Homo sapiens: one gene and its partners. The protein of the gene in region 1 interacts with the protein of each later gene in a pairwise test. Each region holds a gene or a part of one and is shown on either strand. Other genes may lie near its edges.

Region 1 (7,630 bases):
TGTTCTTGTGTTAGTTGCTGAGAATGATGGTTTCCAGTTTCATCCATGTCCCTGCAAAGGACATGAACTCATCCTTTTTATGGCTGCATAGTATTCCATGGTGTATATGTGCCACATTTTCTTTATCCAGTCCATCACTGATGGGCATTTGTGTTGGTTCCAAGTCTTTGCTATTGTGAACAGTGCTGCAATAAACATACGTGTGTGCATGTGTCTTCATAGTAGAATGATTTATATTCCTTTGGGCATATACCCAGTGATGGGATTGCTGGGTCAAATGGTATTTCTGGTTCTAGATCATTGAGGAATCGCCACACTGTCTTCCACAATGGTTGAACTAATTTACACTCCCACTAACAGCGTAAAAGCGTTCCTATTTCTCCACATCCTCTCCAGCATCTGTTGTTTCCTGACTTTCTAATGATCACCTTTCTAACTGGTGTGAGATGATATCTCATTGTGGTTTTGATTTGCATTTCTGTAATGACCAGTGATGAAGAGTTTTTTTTCACGTTTATTGGCCGCATTAATGTCTTCTTTTGAGAAGGGTTCATTTCTCTTCATTATTTTTTCTCTAATCTTATCTTCACACTTTATTTCATTAAGTTGATCTTCAGTCTCTGATATCCTTTCTTTTACCTGATTGATTTGGCTATTGATATTTGTGTATGCTTCATGAAGTTCTCGTGCTGTGTTTTTCAGCTCCATCAGGCCATTTATGTTCTTCCATTTGGGGCTGGGTTTATAGTTTTGTAACCCCTATGCCAAATGTTGACACCTTATAGTAATTGGCAGGGATAAGTAGGAAATTGCTTGATAAATAAATGCAAACAAAAATGTATGCTGGCAATTCTTAAGACATTTCTAAATTACTTTGCCACTATTTTTAAAGCTAACTTATTTATTAAAGATTTTAAGTAAACTTAACATTTGACTAGTCTTTCCCTTTTTCTAATAAAGTATTTTATTTGAGCACTTTTATTTTTCTTTAATTAATAAATAAATAATTTATTTGAGCACTTTTATTTTTCTTTAAGCCAATTAATTATAGCTCTTCTATATTTTTTAATAGAGAAACATTGTGTACGCAACACATAAATACATAGATGTATTAGGTATACCGATAGAAGTACATCTTATAGATTCCTAAGACCTCTTTTTTTTTTTCTATCTTAGACTTGCAAACTCTTGATCATCTGTGTCATTGCCCTGGCAGTTGCCGGCTAAATAGCCCTAAATCTGCATATTAAAGGAAACTATTAGATGAAAAATTAGATAGCAAAATTTACATTTTAAGGTACAGAGAGGAAAAAGTCTGGTGGTGCTAAAGAGAGATTAAAAATGGATGTGAAATCAAACATAAAATTATGAAAATCTATCATAGGATTGTATAAGGAGACCAGTTTTATTTAGACAGAGACTCCCTATATTTTAACTGGATCTCTGAGCTCTGGGCAGACCCTACACTGAATCCTGGGTCTCCAAAAAGCGAAAATTATTATGAGGTTAGACTACATCATGCTTTTACAGTGCACTTAAAAAACTTTTTTCAACAAAGACATTTCTACATGTCTAAACTATACTATTCCTTAAGAACTCCAGAGTAGCCTCTGTTGCAGTAACTATTTTAGTAAAAAAATTAGGTAACACAATACAAAAGCAAGCAGTTTAAGAGCTGAGATGAAAAAAAAAAAAAGCTGAGATGAACTTGTCTGTTTACACATTTGGGGTTCCATAAGGAAACAGAGGTTTCTCCTCCAAGGGGAATCTGGCACCTTCTCCGTTTTCTGTAAGGAACCCTGGGTATTACAAACTATATTAGGTTTCCCATGAAGCAGAGGGTGCAAGAGAAAGAAGACACGACAAAAGTAAATGAAGAAAACAGAAGCCAGTCAACTAAGAAGAAAAAAACTTTTGCTCAAAAAGACAAGGTCCTAGGAGAGAAAAAAACAAAAAAAACAAAACTGGAAGCCTTTTAAATACAAACACACACACACAGGCACACAACACACATATGTTGGATGTTAGCTTTTAATTAAGCTTTTAACCATTGAGCTCCTTAAAAATAAACTTTTTCAATCTCATTACTGGCTGGGCATGGTGGCTCATGCCTGTAATCCCAACACTTTGGGAGGCCGAGGTAGGCGGATCACTTGAGGCCAGTTTGAGACCAGCCTGGCCAACATGGTGAAACCCCATCTCTACCAAAAAAATACAAAAATGAGCTGGGTGTGGTGGTGCAGGCCTATAATGCCAGCTACTCAGGAGGCTAAGGCATGGGAATCACTTGAACCTGGGAGGTGGAGGTTGCAGTGAGCTGAGATTGTGCCACTGCACCCCAGCCTGGAACACAGAGCCAGACTCTGTCTAAATAAATAAATAAATCTCATTATCATATTTCAGCTAGGACTAATTGCTGCTATTTCAGAAGTACCAAGTATCAAACCAGAAAGGGCTTAATTTAGGAACTAAACCCAGGCTGTGGTGGTGGAAAAAAAGAAGGCAGAACCCTTAGGTATGGAACTGCAGTGTGGGGTGACAGACATTACTCTTTTTGGTTGGTCTGGCTAGCAAAAATGTGGCCTTGTTATGTAAGAAAAGCCCTTTAAGTAGTCAAAATAAATTTTTTTTTTCTTTTTCCTTTTGCTAGCTGTTTTTCTCCCCCCACCACATCACCTTTTGTGTGTGTGTGTGTGGTGGGGAGGGGTTGAAACTTAGCCACTTCAGAGGCCTCACTTCTCATAATTTGGAACTTTCCTTTGGTTTCGATCAAGTCAGATAGAGTTCGTCAAACTCAATGCGAAAAAGACAAAAGAACAAAAAACAGAAACAACAACAAAAAAACCAGTTAAGCGAAACGAAGGATTGGGCAATTTATAAGGTTACTGAGCACACTAATGGTAAGGAGAAATTAAGACCAGCTGGTTGTTAATCTTAATAGCCAAGACAAACCCCAATTCAGTTACTTCCTAGGGATGGGTCTGAGGCTGAAGATTGCTCTCTACCACCCTAGAAGCAGAGGAAGAAAACCCCTCATCTTTCCTGTGGGAAGCGAGCTCAAACTCCATAAACGAGTTACCTGCCTTCCATTGTCATGGAAGCAGGAAAAAACTACTACTTCCTTATGTTGGAAGAGAGTAAAGCACACCCCGCCCCCCAACCCCCGCCCAACACACAAAAGGAGTTGTACAGCAAAATAAACTAGATCTTGACTAAATCTGGGTAGATCAGGGATTCTCTGGAGGGGGTGCTTCCAGGCCTCAGCAAATTGTCCTATTGGTTTGAGCCATAAAGATAGCTCAAGCTGGTACTAAGGACTGACAGATTTGTCAAAGGTCAGTGGCACCTCTACTCAGAATCCCTTTGTGGTTACCAAAATGTGAACCTTGAATATCTGAGTCAGATCTCAGTCAACTTAGGAAGTTTATTTTGCTGAATTTAAGGATGCACGCCCATGACACGGCCGTCGGAGGCCCTGATGACATGTGCCCAAGGTGGTCAGAGCACAGTTTGGTTTTATACGTTTTAGGGAGACATGAGACATCAATCAATATATGTAAGATGAACATTGGTTTGGTCCGGAAGGGCGGGACAACTCAAAGCAAAGGCAGGAGGGAGCTTCCAGGTCATAGGTAAATATGAGACAAATCATTGCATTCCCTTGAGTTTCTGGTTAGCCTCTCCAGAGGTGGCAATCAGATACGCATTTATCTCAGTGAGCTGAGAGATGACTTTGAACAGAATGGGAGGCAGGTTTGCCCTAAGCAGTTCCCAACTTGACTTTTCCTTTTAAGCTTAATGATTTTGCGGCCCCCAAATTTATTTTCCTTCCACATTTTTTTTTTTAAATCAGACTTAAGGTCTGCCTTGATGTTAATGCTGGAGGAGTGTAAAAAGGCATGTCCAACTCTTACTTCCCTTCGAGGCCAGAATAGTCTCTCAGGTTGAACTTCAGGGTCCCCTGGTAAAGGAGGGAGTCCAGTCAGACGGCTGCGGGGGAGGGGGGGCTTCGAATTTTATGTTTTACAGGCATTAGCGCCACCCATTTCTCCTTAACCCCAAACTTCCTCTCCCCACAACAGAAACGTCATCATTCTGCTTCCACTTATCCAGAAGAAAGGCAGAGGGCGCACACTGCGCAGCGCGGATGGGAAAGTTAACTGAATTATTTGCGGGAAGACAGAGGAGGTGGGGGGTCCCCCAAGCCCCAGCCATTTTGTGGCTCGTAGGGGTTGTCGCTTCCCAAGCCGTGAATGGCCCAAACCCGCCCCCCGCCCCAGGTCGGACTCCTGCCCCGCGCCCCTCTGGGTCGGACCCCAAGCCGAGCCCCCCAACCCCGCGGCTGGGCTGGGCGATTGGGGACGAGCTCCACACATGGAGAACCTGGCCTCGCCTCGCAAGACCGCGGGACGCGCAGATGTGAAGTGCGCCTGCGCGGGGCGCAGCCCCAGCTGCAGACGATCTGTGAGCGACGCGCCGGCGCAAGTCGAGGGCGGTGGCTTGGCTTCCCTGGAATGGGGGACGTCTTAGGACTGCGCCTGCGCGGGGCGCCGGGCCCTGGGCGGGGCCTTCCCGGCTGACGGCCTGCGTGCACTGCGCTTGCGCGGGTTGAGGGCGGTGGCTCAGGCTCCTGGAAAGGACCGTCCACCCCTCCGCGCTGGCGGTGTGGACGCGGAACTCAGCGGAGAAACGCGATTGAGGTAGGTGTCCTGATGGGCAGCTCAGATGGCTGGACTGCACGTAAGGAAGGACAGGCCAGGTGAGGCGTCCTCGCACTGCGTGTGCGTCGCTGGCGGACAGAGGCCTCCGCCCCCTTTTGGGACCTCCGAGCGCCTTCGCGATCTCAGCCACTTTCCCTGGCGTCCAAACGGGAGCTCGGTCCCCGTCACACCCTTCCCTGCGTGCCGCACCCCTTCCCGGCCACTCCCGCCGTCCAGCGCCTTCTACGGCCACGCCCACCCCACCACCATCTCTGTCACGCCCTTCGCGGCCACGCCCACCTGCCTGGCGGCCCCTGCCCCGAAGCTCGCGGCGCTGTCCCAGCCTGACCCTCTCGTGCCCCTGCGTCCACGCGTGGCCCTCTCGCTTCCTGCCCCCTTCTCACCCCCCTTCACTGGCCACCTGTTCCAACCCTCCATGATCCTGTTCCTCCCGAGGGCATCTTAGGAGGGCAGGGTCCTGCGCGCACTGCGGCCTCCACTCCGACCCCGTCCCAGTTTGGACCCAGGTCTTCCAATGAAAATATAATTATGCAAATCAGTAAGCATTTGTAACTACGAATATCACAAAAATAAGCTTCAAGTCTGGATTTAGAAGTGAAGCATGCATTTTAAACAAAGAATTGCTATGCAATTTTAAAAACACATTGATCCCAGAGCAGTGTGTGGATTACACTATCACTGGAAAAATACGAATTGAGAAGAAGGAAAAGACTGGAAGATGCAGACCTTGGTTCCTGTTAGTGGAAACACTGTAAGGTCCCAGGTAGGGACTTTTAATTGGAATTAAAGCTATCACACTTCTAAGAAATTAATGAATACTGATTTATTGCCTTAAGTCGACACCTGATCTAACAGAAACTAACAGGCTTCAGCAAATGAACAAGATTAACACCTTGCAGACTAGTGAAGAAAACACACTATTTGAAGTTTATGATTTTTAAATGCTTTTGTCTCTGTAAAGTATTGTAAATTTTCATTTCTACACTAATCTTCACACATACACATTTTACTTCTATTTGGTAGAGGACATCATGCACATTAGAAGTTAAGTGAACTCAATTATTAAGCAATGTAACAAGTACTTTGTGTCTCCTTCTCTTTTTAAAAGTAGAAATGGAAAAGAAAATGAAATAAATCAGCAGTTATGAGGCAGAGCCTAAGAGAACTATGGCAACATCAGGTGACTGTCCCAGAAGTGAATCGCAGGTAATTTCCGTTCCACTTCCTAAAAATCTGTGTTTAATGAATGTGAGCATTACAGAGAGCTAAGCGTCAGCTCACAGATGTGATGGAGCTTGGCTTGTGCCTTGGAAGGTGGCCACCGGCAGTAGAATGCTTAAATGTGAAGATTGTGAGGCAGAGGAAACGCAGTGCCTGTAAGGTGACATCCTGCATTGGGCACCATAACAATTCTAAGGAAATACTTAGCCCCAAAACATCAGCATCATTTAGGGTTCCATTTTTGGTACGTGAACTGGCAAAGCAAGCATATTTTCTGAGCTGTTCAATAAAATTTCAGGCATAATACCAGCAATATATTGAAGGCAAGTTGGACACATTAGAAAAGATTTATGTATTCATACTGTTTCTGCCTGGGGTACTCATGTAGTTTCGTTCAAGTTAGCAGTAAAAAATACCCCTCAAATTGTAAAGACTGTTGATTATGTAAAAGTCACCAACTGAATAATAGATACTGTTTTTAAAAATCAAGCATTTCCGTATCTGTTATGTCAATTTTAATGTTTTCTTTTTTTCTCTTTCATTCCAATGAGCTTTCATTTGGCTTTTTATATATAGGAATTTTATTTATAGTCAGAATCTTTCGTTAATTTCTTTAATTATTCATAAAATGTTTTAATTCCGTGGACATCTTATTTTTCTTTTGAGAAATTTAACAAATATTAGGACATTTCCAGAATGATATTGTAAACATCAAGTACATTAAACAGTGTACATTAAGCTATATATATGTGTGTGTATATACATATATGTGTGTGTGTGTGTGTATATATATATGTATATGTAAAAAATACTGTCGGGTGTGTCTGTAGTTCAGCTACTCAGGAGGCTGAAGCAGGAGAATCACTTGGGGCCGGGAGTTTGAGGATGTGGTGTATTATGATTGTGCCTGTGAATAGCCACTGCATTCCAGCACGGCCAATAAACTGAGACTTCATCTCTTAAAAAAGAAAAAGCGACACTCTAGATAAAGTTTGTTCCCCAGTCTCAGTCCTATTCCTCCTCTTCTCTCTCTAGAGGCAAACACTACTGTGAATCATGAGTCTGTTTTGTGCCACTGCACCATTTTTATACCTCTATGGCTTATATAGATATACTTGAATGACATATGATATTGTTTGTGTGGGCTTTTTAGAGTTTCCATAGTGGTGTCATACTGTCAGTGTCACCTGTAGCTTGCCTCTTCATATAACTTTACCTTTGGGGAAGTTGTCCTTGTTATGTGTGTAATGCTGGTTCAATCCTGCCACTGTAGGGTACTCCTGTAGTGTGTTCCTTCTCTGAAAGTGTAAAGTATCCTATTTGTAGATATGTGTATGGGCCTGTTGCAGTCTCACTGCTACACAGTAGGCATATACCCCATTTTACTTATTCCCTTTTTGTTGGACACTTAAATTGTTTCTAGTTTTTTCTATTTCAAACAATGCTGTAGTGACCATCCGTCTCCATGCCTCTGTGCTCCAGTAATGGCATTGCAGGGTGCAAGGGATTGCAAGTTTCAGTTTTACTGGATAATGATCAGTTGTTCCCCACAATGACTTTACGAGTTCACAGGTCTGTCAGTAGCCCACAATAGTGCTTACTAACACTTGACAGTATCAGACTTTTAAGTTTTGGTCAGTCTCATGGGTTAGAAATGGTATTTTGTTATTTCAATTTTGCTGACTGGT
Region 2 (6,508 bases), on another chromosome or scaffold:
TAACTGATCTCTCCTGAACAAGAAAAGGAGACATATTATCACACAGTCCACCCCTTTCAGATGGTAAAAGCCATTTTGGATATCTGTAGGCAGCTGATTTCACTCAGTGATTTGTCCATTGCTTAGTCAAATCCCGATTATTTAATAATGGCTCAGCTACTACCTGGAATTATATGTCTAGCCCCCTCTAAAACACACTGGGTATCCAAATTCTAATACAAGCTAAACTCTTTCAAGATAAAAAGTTTTCAACATTTAAGGGCTTTGTTTGCCAACACATCATACACATAAAATTCTGAAAAGGTGGATACTATGGACTTGAATCAAGTTTCCTCCCTGCTGTTCCAAGTATCCTCTTCTCTTGACACTTCAGCATTAGCAGGCAAGGATAAGCAACAATTTTTACCTCTCCAAGATTACCAAATCTACCTCTCCAAAGGCACAAAATATTTTCAGGTTTAAAAACAAAACAAAACAAAAACCCTGACAAGATAATATTATAGCTCAGTAAAGTACTTTTGTGCAGTTAAAGCATTAAAAGCATCAGCCTGTTTTATTTTTTGACAAGTTTATTGAACAGTATTCAAGACTTCATCTTTATAAACAAAAACCTCTGCTGAGTGATGCCAAGGCAGTATTTGCTGGCAATGTTGTGGCCATATTGGCAACAAGCCATTTTGTTGTGTTTGGTTTCTAAAGTCTGGACTACTATAGAACTGCCAGTAAAACAATTTAAATGTGGCAATTTTGCAAGGGTGGAAAATAATTTTTAAAGTGACCACTTCCAGAAATTCTTTCCAAAAGATTTGACTAGCAGCAATTTTACATTTTCTTTACTCATTTCCCGAGTGTTCTTAAAATTGATGAGATTTTACACTTGGCCCATACCTGTACACAACCACAGACTCCAGTAAAAGGGAGCTGGAATTTAAGGCTTTCACGCATCCTTGTTTTTATGCAAGGCTGACTATTTCCACCTAAAAATGTAATGTTTGCTTACTTCCATACAGTCCTAGATTTTCATCCAGTGGGTTAAGACTGGCCTTAACTACACTGAATATTACTACCTGAAATTTTAAATAAAGTTTCCTAATCGAATTTTCATTGTTGATGCTTTGACAACTTGGAGTACAAAGCTAGGAACTACATTTCACTTAACACTGTTTCATTTTTTAAAAAGCCACTAATAATAATTGTACATCCAAACTACTGTGTAAACACAGAACACACCTCCAAATTATGCTTGTGAACTAAATGTTTCACTAAAGTTCAGAAAAGTTTACAAATTTGCTTATTTATGACATACATTTGTAGATTTCTCTAATCCTTTAAATCAAAAGAAAAATGAACACCAATAAAAAAAAAATCAGAAGGGAGAGGAAAAAAAATTAAATCTAATGGAAAATATTCTCTTCCATTAATGTCAGAGTCACCAAAAACAGACAATAAAATTTACACATAAAATTGAAAATATCATGATAGTGTTTACAAATGCACACAACTTTGAGCAAAGCTTTACAAATCCTTCATACCATACAAAGCAAATGAGAAAATAATGTCAATTCATTTCTACCCCAAACCTAGTTCTTAGGAGAAAATTCGCAGGAAGAGAGGTATGAGTAGTTTCACAGAATACATTTTCAAGAATTTTTTAAAAACTGAAACTCCAATGCCCAGAACAAGATAAACAGTATCCTTAGCAGTTAGCACTGTTAATAAATCTCAGATACACAAAAATCAAGTTCCAGAGGGCAAAGCATTTAATTACAGTCCACAACGAGCACTGTTGTGATTCATATAAAACATAGTTCTCTCCAATTTCTACACAAACCGCTCTTTTAATTTATTTAATTAGATGAACAATGAAATCGTTTTCCTTTTCAGCATTTATCTAAGATGTAGAAATAACAAAGTAGTTGCAATAAAGTGTATGAAATATTTAATAAGAATGTACGAACATATAACCAAAATAAATTGTGAAAAAAGATAAAAGACTTTCATCTTCAAACAACCCATTTTTCTAAAATGAAAATAGCTTTCCAATGGAGAAAATATCTGTGGCTGAAATACAACTCTCAAGCAGTGCTGAAGTTTTTTGCATTGTCTTTGGAATGAGAAATGATTACTTAACATTAACTTAAATTAAACAGCATATACAAACGTTATATTGCTTTTGAAATTGAGGAGGCAGTATCTAGTGATCGGTCAAAGCAAATCTGTATTCATGAATTATCAAAAGACCCACAACATAGTCACCTCTTGAGTCTAAACAATCCTTCTCTTAAACAAAAATCCTGTACTGTCAATCCTCTAAGATTGTAGTGATAAAAAGCCTTTTCAAATCTTATCAAATGAAACTGTTGCCACTCTTAAATTACACAACCGCTGTATTTCAGTGTTCCACTGACTCACAACACCAAAAAGGCACTGTATATATATATAGTTTAATAGGAAATACTTATTTTAAAAGACTGACCCCTTTGTAACTACGCTGATTTGTAGGAAATGTTGGGGATGTTTCAAACGAAGACAAAGGGGCCATGTAAAAGATAAAATTTGGTTTTCATGATCTCTCATCTATCTCTCCTTCTGTATTGTTTATAATGTGACACATTTTCAGAGCATTGACTAGGGAAAGTAACCATAACTAGAGCCCTGTAAGGCCAAGTTTTTCATCACAAGGAAAGTAACCATAATTAGAGCCTTTTATGACAGTGAGAAAATTTGTTTTTCATATCATCTCACCTATCTCCCCTTCCGTATTGTTTATAATATAATGTGACACATCTTCAGAGCACTGACTAGGGAAATCATAATTAGAGCCTTGTAAGGCAAGTGTTTTCATGACAAGGACACTTACCAACCAGAACTCATGTGGTCCTCCTGCCTTAGTGTCCTGAATACCAAAGAAAAGAGTATGAAAGGGTCAAGAATCTCAATTTTCTCCTCTGGCGGCTGCACTTGTACTCTGTATGAAGACTTTTAGTAAACAGGCTCCTGATCGAACAACTATGCCAAAAAGCCTCCAAATAACAGGACTAACACGTATCAATCTACGAACCAGCATACGGATCTTTTATTCTATACTACTACTGCTAACAAAGATAATTTCAACTTCAGTTTTAAAAACCTAGATATAACACTTTCTTATGAATGGGCCCCTCTTTGTTTAAAGGCCAAAATTTCACATAATCGGGACAGGAGGAAATTGATACTACAATTAGTCCATATGAAAAGGACTTCAAATCAAGTATCTTAAACACATTATTAAAAGTGGTTTCTGGTTTTCGATACCATCCAAACAACATGAACAATTTTTAAACTGACTAACCTAAATCGTGGCGGTCAAACCAAAAAGGCTCTGGTAGATAAAGGACTCCATAGTTTATTTTTATGGCAAAAGTCTTATTCCACACAGTTTTAAGTGTGACATTAGAAATCAAAGTTTGAGGTTATAGCACAAACGAAGTGTGGACTTTTATATTTAGGGAAAAAAACCAACAAAACAGTTCTGCTCATTTACAAATGAGTCAATTAGACAAACAAAGCAGCAACTTCTGAAGCAGGACTGTCTATACAGCAAGGACCCTTAAGAAGCAATAAAGGTACATACAATGAATCTGTATACAGAAATTTTATTCAATTTTAAAAGAAAATGAGGACTTTAGACAAAGCTTTACCCTATAACAAAGCAAATCTGTCCAGCTTTAAACCAAATTCTGAGAGTAGCCAACTTCTATTTTCAGCAGCTGGCAAGAGCACCCTCAATGAGTTCTACTGACATTTCTATTTTCTTCATCCCATATGGTATAAAACAAAACCAATCTAGACTCCTTGATAAGCTTTATGTGGTCATTTGAGTTTTACAAATGGTTTCTCTAATGGTATGCCAAAATCATTTATGTGTTCTCTCCAGATAGCTTTACTGTAACATACAGCAATGTTTATCCTGGTGAGTGAGTCTTCTGTAAACAGTCAACCAATGCTCTATGTTATGGAAACCAAGCTATATGCAATTGAAACAATCCACAGGTTCTAACCTGGAAATACTAGGAAAACAATCTGGATGCATTAATCACAGCAATATGAAGATCTACCCTATAAAAAATGATGTGAATGGCTACCCTAATACAAGTTTTACTTTTCTTGAACCTATAGGCCTGTCATTTAAGTCAATGACAGCAGCTGTGGCTTCATCCCGAGACTCAAAGGCCACCATGGCTTCACCTGTGGGCATACCTTTTTCATTGTATTTTAAACACACTGAGCCTGGGATTACTTGATAGCCATAAAAGAAATCTAAAATCTCATCAATAGACACAGTAAAGGGCATGTTTTGCACTTTAATTACTGTCGGTCCTGGTTTTCCAGAACTAGATGCAAAGCCAGGGGGACCACCAATATGGATTGGGCCAGGGCCGGGGCCGGGGCCGGGGCCAGGCCCAAAAGCTGGTGGCCCACCCAAATGCCCAGGGGCACTTCCAAGACCAGGAGGGCCACTTCCAAACCCCGGGGGACCGCCTAAGCTACCAGGGCCATTTCCAAAATTCTGAGGGCCCCCTCCAAATCCCGATGGCCCACTTAAATTGTTTGGTCCACCTCCAAAACCCGGAACATCCAGTCCTAGACCAGGCAAACCACTGTTTCCAACTGAAGGCATACCAGGCCTAGCATCACCAAAGGCCCCGCCTCCTAATCCTGGAGGAGGGATTGGTGGCCCAAAGGCATTTGATCCACCAAAATTACCAGGAAAGTTAAATGGAGGCCCATTATTGGCTTCCTTTGATCCTACAGTCAGGAAGGCATGCTCTTCACCTCCTGCACTAGGTATTCCTGCACTGGGCATTCCCGCACCAGGCAGTCCTGCACTGGTTATTGCTGAACCAGGCAGTCCTGTGCTGGGCAGGCCTGCACCGGGAAGTCCTGCACTGGGCAGTCCCACACCGGGCAGTCCCGCATTGGGCATTCCTGGAACTGCAGGATTACCTGGCACAGGCATCTTTAATCCCTTTTTTCCTTGGGCAGGGGGATTTTTCTCAATCTCTCTCATATCTTCTAGGGTAACTACATGAACAAAAGCTTCTCTCCCATTAAGTTTTTTACGGTGTAAGCGTTCAGACTTACGTGCATCATCTTCATTTTTAAACTGAACCAATGCCTGTCCTAGACCTTGCCCATTGTTATCAACAAGAACATGTACAGCATTTTCATCCACTGGGATTCCTTCTAGGAACTGAAGAACATCCATCTTTGTAATGCTGAATGGAATATTTGTTATGTGGGCACAGACTTTGGCAGAGTTGACATCCCCCTCTGGATTTAGTATCATTTCCCTCTGGTCATAGCTGAAGTTCTGCAGTCTTTTTCGAATCATATCTATCTTTTCTAGCATACCTTTCTTAGTAATTGGATGAACTTGAATAAAGCGATTGCCCATGTACTGTTTATGACGACACAGAGCAGCCTTATAGTCAGCCTCATTTCTGAACTCTACAAAGCCTTCGCCAGTTGCTTTCCCATTGGGTCCATAAGCTATATAAATACTATCTTCCACAATATCCAGCTTTTTAAAAAAATCAATGACATGTTTGTTTTCTGCTTCAAATGGTAGCCCTTTCAAGTAAACACAAAAACCAGCCTCATGTGGTGATCTTGACCTTGATCTTTTCTGCCCACTGGGCGATTTTGACCTGGGAAGTGTCTGAGGAGGGGGATGAGTTTGTCCAGAAGGTCCCATATTTTGCTTAAAAGTGATATGGCCTCCAGCAGCTACCCACTGTCTTTCTGTGGCAGGGCTAACTTCCACATAGCGTTGAATCATCAGCATTCTGTTTCGTTTCAAAGCTTCAAATGTATCTTGAGGGGAGAGAAACTTAACCAATCCATTCCCATTATTTCGACCTACATGATCTTTCAACAAATGCACTGCATCAACACGGAGCCCATGAAAAAAATCTCTGACATCATTTTCCATTGCAGAAAAGGGCATTCCATGCACACTGACATACAGATCATCAGGGTTGATGGGGAGTGGCTTCACACTGCTCTGAGAGTTCATCTGGATAGGGTTAACAGGATTCAACGGACCAAGAAACATAGGATTCAGATTATTGTTCAAATTCATAGGTGCTCCAGAGCCATTCATTCCAGCAGGTAGAGGTGCCACAGGTGGCGGATTCAAGGGCGGCATGCCCGACATGGGTGGCAGTGGGGTCATGGGTGGCACAGAAGGAACTGGGGGAATCGGGGGCACAGGAGGCACAGGAGGCAATGTAGGTACTGGAGGAGGAACTGGAATTGGGGGAATGGATGGCATTGGTGGCAGAGATGGCATCGCTGGAATTGGAGGAATTGGTGGCGGCGGGACTGTGTTCATTGGAGAGGCTGTGCTTGGAACAGTTGAGCTAAACGTTGGGCTCCCAAAGGAAGCCCCCATATTTGGAGGAGCTGTTCCTACGCTGGCTGTGGAAAATGTCTGTATGTTTTTGTTGCTTTCATGAACAGAAGT
Region 3 (7,032 bases), on another chromosome or scaffold:
TTTTTTTTTCCCTTCTTTTTCATAAAAAGGATACACCTGCAGCTGCATACAATATTTATGTTCAAATACAAAGGTTCCAAGGTCCCTGATGTTAAGAACTCCACCATTAACTGAAGTGTAGGTAGAAAATATGACTTAGGTATGTACCTGCCAGTCATACGTATTTGTGAAGAGAAAATGACGGAAGCAATAATAGCATTTACCTTACAGCACTGCTGTTGGCATGAAAGCTACTCTACCTATTCTGTAGAGTATTTAACAATAATCACCAGCTACTAAGTGCCAGGTCCTGCGTTAGGGGTGCAGATGGTATTGAGATCCCTGTTTTACAAACCAAGAGATGGAGATTCAGAGAATAAAGTCAGCTGCCCAAAGGCACAGAGCTAGGGAGTAGCCGAGCTGGCATTCAAGCTCCAGTCTCTCAGGCTTGGAAATCCATACTCCTTCCATTTTGCTAAACAGTTCTTACCTGATGTTCTTTGGGGCTGCTGATGAGTCTGAGTAAGTAGGCCTAGATCATGATCCCAGTCCAGGCTCAGCTGTGTGTAGTACCATGTCATCATGTATGACAAGGTCTGACCCCCCCGACTAGCACAGCAGTCCATCATCATTACGGGGGAAAAAAGAAAGGGACCAGAGGGAGATTCTCAGGCATGCAAGGGGTCCCCTCCCTTCTCCTGAGGACACAATGGTCATCATTAAGTACCTGATCTAGGATATAGTTGCGTTTCTTGCGGGCAGCAATCTGGATGAGGCGGTTGAGGCACTGGGTGGCCTGCTGGATCAGGACATCCCAGCGGCCAGCATAGTTCCGCTGCCGGCGTAGGCCCATCACCTGCGGGCAGGAATTGGTGAGGGGTGAGTGATTTTAGTTGCAGGGCAGCACTCAGTAGGTTGGAGGTGAGTAAGGAGAGTCCAGTGGCTGGCCTTACCCGCATCTTATCCATGATGGCATTGGTACCCAGGATGTTGTACTTCTTGGAAGGGTTGGAGGCTGCATGTTTGATGGCCCATGTGGTCTTGCCAGCAGCAGGCAGGCCCACCATCATCAGAATCTACAAGAACAAGACAGGGAAGGTGTTGCGGCATGGTGGTATGGCACCACTTGGCTCGGTGGTGACTGTGAGTGTGACTCTGGACCTCTGAGCTGTGGCTGCCTCTACAAAGCGGAAGCAGTAATACCATCTACCTCACAGTACTGGTATCGGGATTCAAAAAGATCAGGCTTGTCAGACTCTGAGCACAGTGCCTGGGACAGGGTGAGCATTAAGTCAAGTGCTGGCCAGGCACGGTAGCTCACGCCTATAATCCCAGGACTTTCGGGGGAAAACAAAAACAAAAAACCAAGTGCTGTCATCATTAGCATTTATAGTATTTTGTTTTTTTGAGACAGGGTCTCACTCTATTGCCCAGGCTGGCGTGTAATGGCCCAATTACAGCTCACTGCAGCCTTGAACTCCCAGGCTCAAGCAATCCTTCTACATCAGCCTCCAGAGTAGCTAGAACTACAGATACAAACCATCACACCCAGCTAATCTTTTTCTCTCTTTTTTTGGTAGAAATGAGAGTCTCCTTATGTTGCCCAGACTGGTCTCAAACTCCTATACTCAAGGGATCCTCCTCCCTTCTTGGCCTCCCAAAGTGCTGGAATTATAGGCATTTGCCACCAAACCCAGCCCATTTACAGGATTATGTGACCCATTCCCCGCCCCCTGCAATAGCCCAGGGAAGGCTGTGTACTGGGACTGGCCCCATGGAGTGGGTAGAAGTGGTACAACTTTCTTTAAGTATGAAATAGGAACAGAGCTGCACACACAAGGACATGAATTGTATCTAATCAGTACATTTAGAATTTGGTAAACACAGATGCATCTTAAATGCCCGACTAGGGGGGAGTGGCGAGTTTGTAAGGCCATTAAGAATGACGTTCATTCCCTTGAAGGATTTTTAAAAAAGAAAAAATGATGTTCAAAGAGAGGTTTTTATGTGATGGGATAAAGCTCACAAAATAATGTGAAGTGAAAAGAGCAGGGTATCATAATGCTTATACCATAGAATCTCAATGATAAATGTTTGTGAGCATAAAACAGGCACTTAGACATTAAAAAGAACAGATGAACTCCAAAACTCTGCAAGTAAACTTATTTGTAGATGATGGCATTATGAAAATTTAAATTTTTTACTTCTTAATTTTCTAGAACAAGCATAAATAACTTACACATACAAGAAAAATATTGTTTTAAGAAAAAAGACACTAGTATAGCTCTTGGAATCAAATCTTCCCAAAGGCCATTTATCTTTTGATAGCTCTGGGTGAGAGGTGGAACTTACTCAACCTCCTTCAAGAACACTCGGTGGGCCAGGCTCAGTGGCTAAAAAAGTTAGCCTGGCATGGTGGCATGTACCTGTGGTCCCAGCTACTCGAGAAGCTGAGGTGGGAGGATCACTTGAGCCTGGAAGGTCAAGGCTGCAGTAAGCCGTGATCGCACCACTGCACTCCAGCCTGGGTGACAGAGCGAGACCCTGTCTCTAAAGAAAAAAAAAGAACACTTGGTGGCACAGTGCACTCCCCAAGAAGCGCCTAGTGTCCTTTTCTGCTGTAAGAAAAGCCTCCTTTTCCCCTATTCTGGCCTCACTTAAGAAGAAGATGCAATCTTTCTGAGATTTAGGTAGCCTCTCCGACTTCAACTTAGGTCACACCAACACCCCTCACCTCACACTCAGAGCAGCTTTTCAGCTCTGAGTCCAACCCTGAGGAGCTGGGACAAAGTGGCCACTTGCCCCAAGGCTACTCTCGCAGCAAGTCTGTGTGTGTGTGTGTGTGTGTGTCTCCTCTGTCTTGGCAGCAAGGTGGCCACCAATACATTCTGGCCCCACTCACCTCACATTCTGCCTTGCTCTTTGGTCCAACGGTGCCCCGGATACGCTCACTAAGGGGAAGGTGCTGGATGAAGGTAAACCCCGGGAGGACAGAACAGTAGGGCTCTGCTCTCTGTCCGAAGTTGAACTCCACTGCGCAATTCTTCACCAGGACATGAGGATAGAGGGCCTGACCCCCCAAGGCTTCCTTCTGGATTCGGAAAGCAATGCCCATCCACTTTCCATTCTTGGTAAAAGACAGTTCCACGTCATTTCCACATTCAAAATCCTAGGAGAAAAAGCCAAAGGAATATGATTGCCAACTCTTGCCATAGGCACTGGGAGTCAAATGTGAGGACAGTAGATGCAGGGAGTAGAATGTGGACAGCTTTCCAGATTGAAGTGCATCCTTCCCCAACATACAGGTAAGCTGGGCAGCATCAGTGAACATCTCAGAGAATGTCCAGCCCAAAGTCCTCCTTGCCTAAGACCCCAAAGTTGGTGGATATGAAGCAAGTAAGCAAGAGTTTTTTTTTTTTGTTTTTTTTTTTTTTGAGACAGGGTCTCACCCTGTCCCCCAGGCTGAGTGCAGTGGCACAGCTAGGGCTCACCGCAACCTCAAACTTCCAGGTTCAAGCAATCCTCCCACCTCAGCCTCCTGAGTAGCTGGGACTACAGGCATGTTCCACACCTGGCTAATTTTTAAATTTTTTTGTAGAGACAGGGTCTTGTTATGTTGCCCAGGCTGGTCTTGAAATCCTGGACTCAAGTGATCTTCCCACCTTGGCCTGCCAAACTGTTGGAATTATAGGCTTGAGCCACTGCACCTGTCCTAAAGCAGGTAATTTTAAGAAGCTCCAAGTATTTGAGTCTTGTGCCTAGACTGAGATGAAGACGAAGGAAAAGGTGGTCCAGTCCTGTCCTGAAAACTGATGAGGAGACAGGTGCAGTGGCTCACGCCTATAATCCCATCACTTTGAGCAGCCAAGGCAGGAGGATGCTTGAGGCCAGGAGTTCAAGTACAGCCTGGGTAACAGAAAGAGACCCCATCTCTACAAAAACAAACAAAAGAAACCCAGAAAGGGCAGTCTATGAATATAACAGATGAAGGAAAGCCACCGCAGGGCCTTTTCGAACTGAGTTCAGCTTGTTCAACATGTTCCCTGAGTTCGTACTCTTTCTGATACACATGTCTGCATAATCTGGGACCGACAGAGCTTAGCGACCAGTGGGGAATGAGACAAGGACACTCTATCATAATTCAGTAAGATGACCTACCTAGAAGCAAGTTTCTGAGGTTTCTCAGTTGCTTGTATATAAGCCTAGCAGTGACAGAACACAAGGTCAGATTGGCTGAGGCATAAAAGATGAGGGGGAAGTAATTCAGGAACAGCTGAAGAGCCATGCAGGGACCACATTCATTTATTCTGTAACAACTACTTATTGAATTGCTAAAGTTAGTAATTAAGATCCCCCCTCTTTTTGTTGAGACGGAATTTCACTCTTGTTGCCCAGGCTGGAGTGCAATGGCGCAATCTCGGCCCACCACAACCTCCGCCTCCTGGGTTCAAGCGATTCTCCTGCCTCAATTAGCTGGGATTACAGGCATGTGCCACCACGCCCGGCTAATTTTGTATTTTTAGTAGACGGGGTTTCTCCATGTTGGTCAGGCTGGTCTCGAACTCCTGACCTCAGGTGATCCACCCGCCTCAGCCTCCCAAAGTGCTGGGATTACAGGTGTGAGCCACTACGCCTAGCCTATGATCCCATTTTAGAAGGTGGATGGCTTCAGTTCTACCATTTACTAACTTGTGGCCTTGGTTAAGTTATTTCATCTTGTTTCTTTATCAAAAAAAGGGGGGCGGGGTAATAATATTTTATACAGCCTATGTTTATTCTAACTGTTAAATGGGCTAGTACATTTAATACACAGTGAGCACACAAGGAATGTGAGCTATCACTGCAAAATGTCAGGCACTGTGCTAGAAATAAGGGGCTGGGACTGAAGTGGTGGGAGGGGACACGGCCTACCTCGGCATGTGAGGGACTCTAATTTACCGCAGGAATTTGAACTTGATGCTGGTGGCAGAGCAGAGTGTCTGACTTATTTTGAATAGAGGAGCAGCCTGCTCAAAACTGTGTTTTGGAAACATTGCTTTGGCTGCAGGATACGAGAGGCTCTTTTTTTTCTTAGTGTTTTTTTGCCTTTTTAAAATTTATATTTTTAAAACGTTTGTTAAATATTTTTCTAAATGCCCATCTCAGAGAAGAAAAGGCTCAAAACTTGAGATTAGATAGCAGACTGAAGCAAAATACACGGTTCGCTTTCTGATATGAAAGTATAATTTCTTTCTCTATTCAGGTGACCACCTTGGGAATTGCCCTTCAAGAAGCGACAGAAGCACCCTCCCTTGAGGAGCTTCCTCATTAACCTCCTCAGTGCTCACAGGGCACAGCTCTGTGTCAGAGGCCCTCATGCCTGTTCATCTCTAAGCATGCACCCACGTCAAGACCATGGAGAGCGGCTGGATGTGGTGGTTCACGCCTGTAATCCCAGCATTTTGGGAGGCCGAGGTGGGCAGATCATGAGGTCAAGAGATCAAGACCATCTTGGCCAACATGGTGAAACTCCGTCTCTACTAAACATACAAAAATTAGCTGGTCATGGTGGCGAGTGCCTGTAATCCCAGCTACTCAGGAGGCTGAGGCAGGAGAATCACTTGAACTAGGGAGTTGGAGGTTGCAGTGAGCCGAGATCATGTCACAGCACTCCAGCCGGGCAACAGCAAGACTCCTTCTCAAAAAAAAAAAAAAAAAAAAGACCATGGAGAGCAGGTATGACTGTTGGTGTTAGTTAGCCTTCCTTATGGCCACCAGCTTCACTATAGGAACTTCCCATAATGCACAGAAACCGGCGCCCTCAACCAACCCATCTACCACCAACAGAGCCATCTGTCCAAAAGGCAAGTGGAGTTGTGTTGTTGTTCCTGCTGAAACACTCCTGTGTCAGTCCCAGGCCTAAAGACCCAAACTCCTGAAGCCTGGCATAATTCAGAGCCTGCCATTTTTATAGCCTGGTGTCTCACACCTCTTTCTGTTGTCCCTAGGCTCTAAGTATCATACTCTTTATGGTTTGCTGAAATGGGTTATTCTGTTCTCCACTTGGAAGGCTGTTTTACCTTTTTGTTTTGCAAATTGAGGACTTGATATTTGACACCAATGTCCTCCCCTCTTGTTCCAGGAGACCAATGATTTTTACACCCCCACCAACTCCTCACCCTGAGCCTTTTTAAAGTTGTGGTATCTTCTGAACAAAGAAAACTATATAAGGAATCTTAAGACTGGATGCAGAGATGTTCTGGTTGAAGCAAGAGTCAAGGCCTAGAGTTCCATACTGCCACATACCAAAAGAACCTCATACTCTGAAAGAACAGACTTTGGCAAACACTGTCACACAGTGACAAGTTAAATTACTGCAACCTGTTTGGAGTGTAGTCTTGGTGGTAGCTATGAAAATTTAAAAATATACCTTTGACTTAGAATCTAACTTTCAAGAAGGAATACAACTACATTCCCACAAGAATGCAAAATTCTATGTGCAAAATGCTCATGCCAGCACGGAAAATGTGCTCCAATGGGGAAGTAGGAGTGGCTAAATTGCACAGGAGATCCATATGTGGGGCTACAAAAAGATCTCCAAGTTACTCCAGTAAATGGAAAAAAGACAAGCCGCATTTATCTGTTCCAGGAAACAACTTTCACAGCCACTAACAGGAAGACGGGCTAAATTAAAGCAGGGTACCCAAACCCCTGCATCAGAATACTAGACAGCCATTACAGTCACTAAATACAAAGCTGCAAAAGTAACGACATGTCCACCAAAGGGAGGCGCTAGGTTAAATCAATTATGGTACAGTCATACAATGACTACAGACAATATAAAAGTACAAAGAAGCTCTCTTGGTAGTACCATAAAAAGATCCCCACCAAGGCCGGGCATGGTGGCTCACGCTTGTAATCTCAGCACTTTGGGAGGCCAAGGAGGGCAGATCACCTGAGGTCGGGAGTTCGAGACCAGCCTGACCAACATGGTGAAACCCTGTCTCTACTAAAACTACAAAATTAGCCGGGCATGCTGGCGCATGCCTGTAATCCCAGCACTTGGGAGGCTGA

What was found. The genes of interacting proteins can lie anywhere in the genome.
Region 2: the proteins of PRMT2 (region 1) and RBM12 interact in binary tests that used the Homo sapiens proteins (3 or more experiments, as listed by UniProt).
Region 3: the proteins of PRMT2 (region 1) and HNRNPUL1 interact in a two-hybrid assay, tested with the Homo sapiens proteins (2 studies listed by BioGRID and IntAct).

Annotation. Positions count from the first base shown.
Region 1 is NC_000021.9:46,631,064-46,638,693, forward strand, and holds the start of PRMT2 (protein arginine N-methyltransferase 2), read left to right. Parts: upstream 1-4,610; 5' UTR 4,611-4,700; intron 4,701-5,375; 5' UTR 5,376-5,484; intron 5,485-5,832; 5' UTR 5,833-5,888; coding exon 5,889-5,927; intron 5,928-7,630. UniProt on the Homo sapiens protein: Arginine methyltransferase that methylates the guanidino nitrogens of arginyl residues in proteins such as STAT3, FBL, histone H4. Acts as a coactivator (with NCOA2) of the androgen receptor (AR)-mediated transactivation.
Region 2 is NC_000020.11:35,648,404-35,654,911, forward strand, and holds the end of RBM12 (RNA-binding protein 12), read right to left. Parts: coding exon 4,121-6,508; 3' UTR 522-4,120; downstream 1-521. Other genes in the region: CPNE1 (copine-1), read right to left, coding at 5,125-5,139.
Region 3 is NC_000019.10:41,288,361-41,295,392, reverse strand, and holds part of HNRNPUL1 (heterogeneous nuclear ribonucleoprotein U-like protein 1), read right to left. Parts: intron 3,149-7,032; coding exon 2,882-3,148; intron 1,056-2,881; coding exon 933-1,055; intron 836-932; coding exon 707-835; intron 1-706.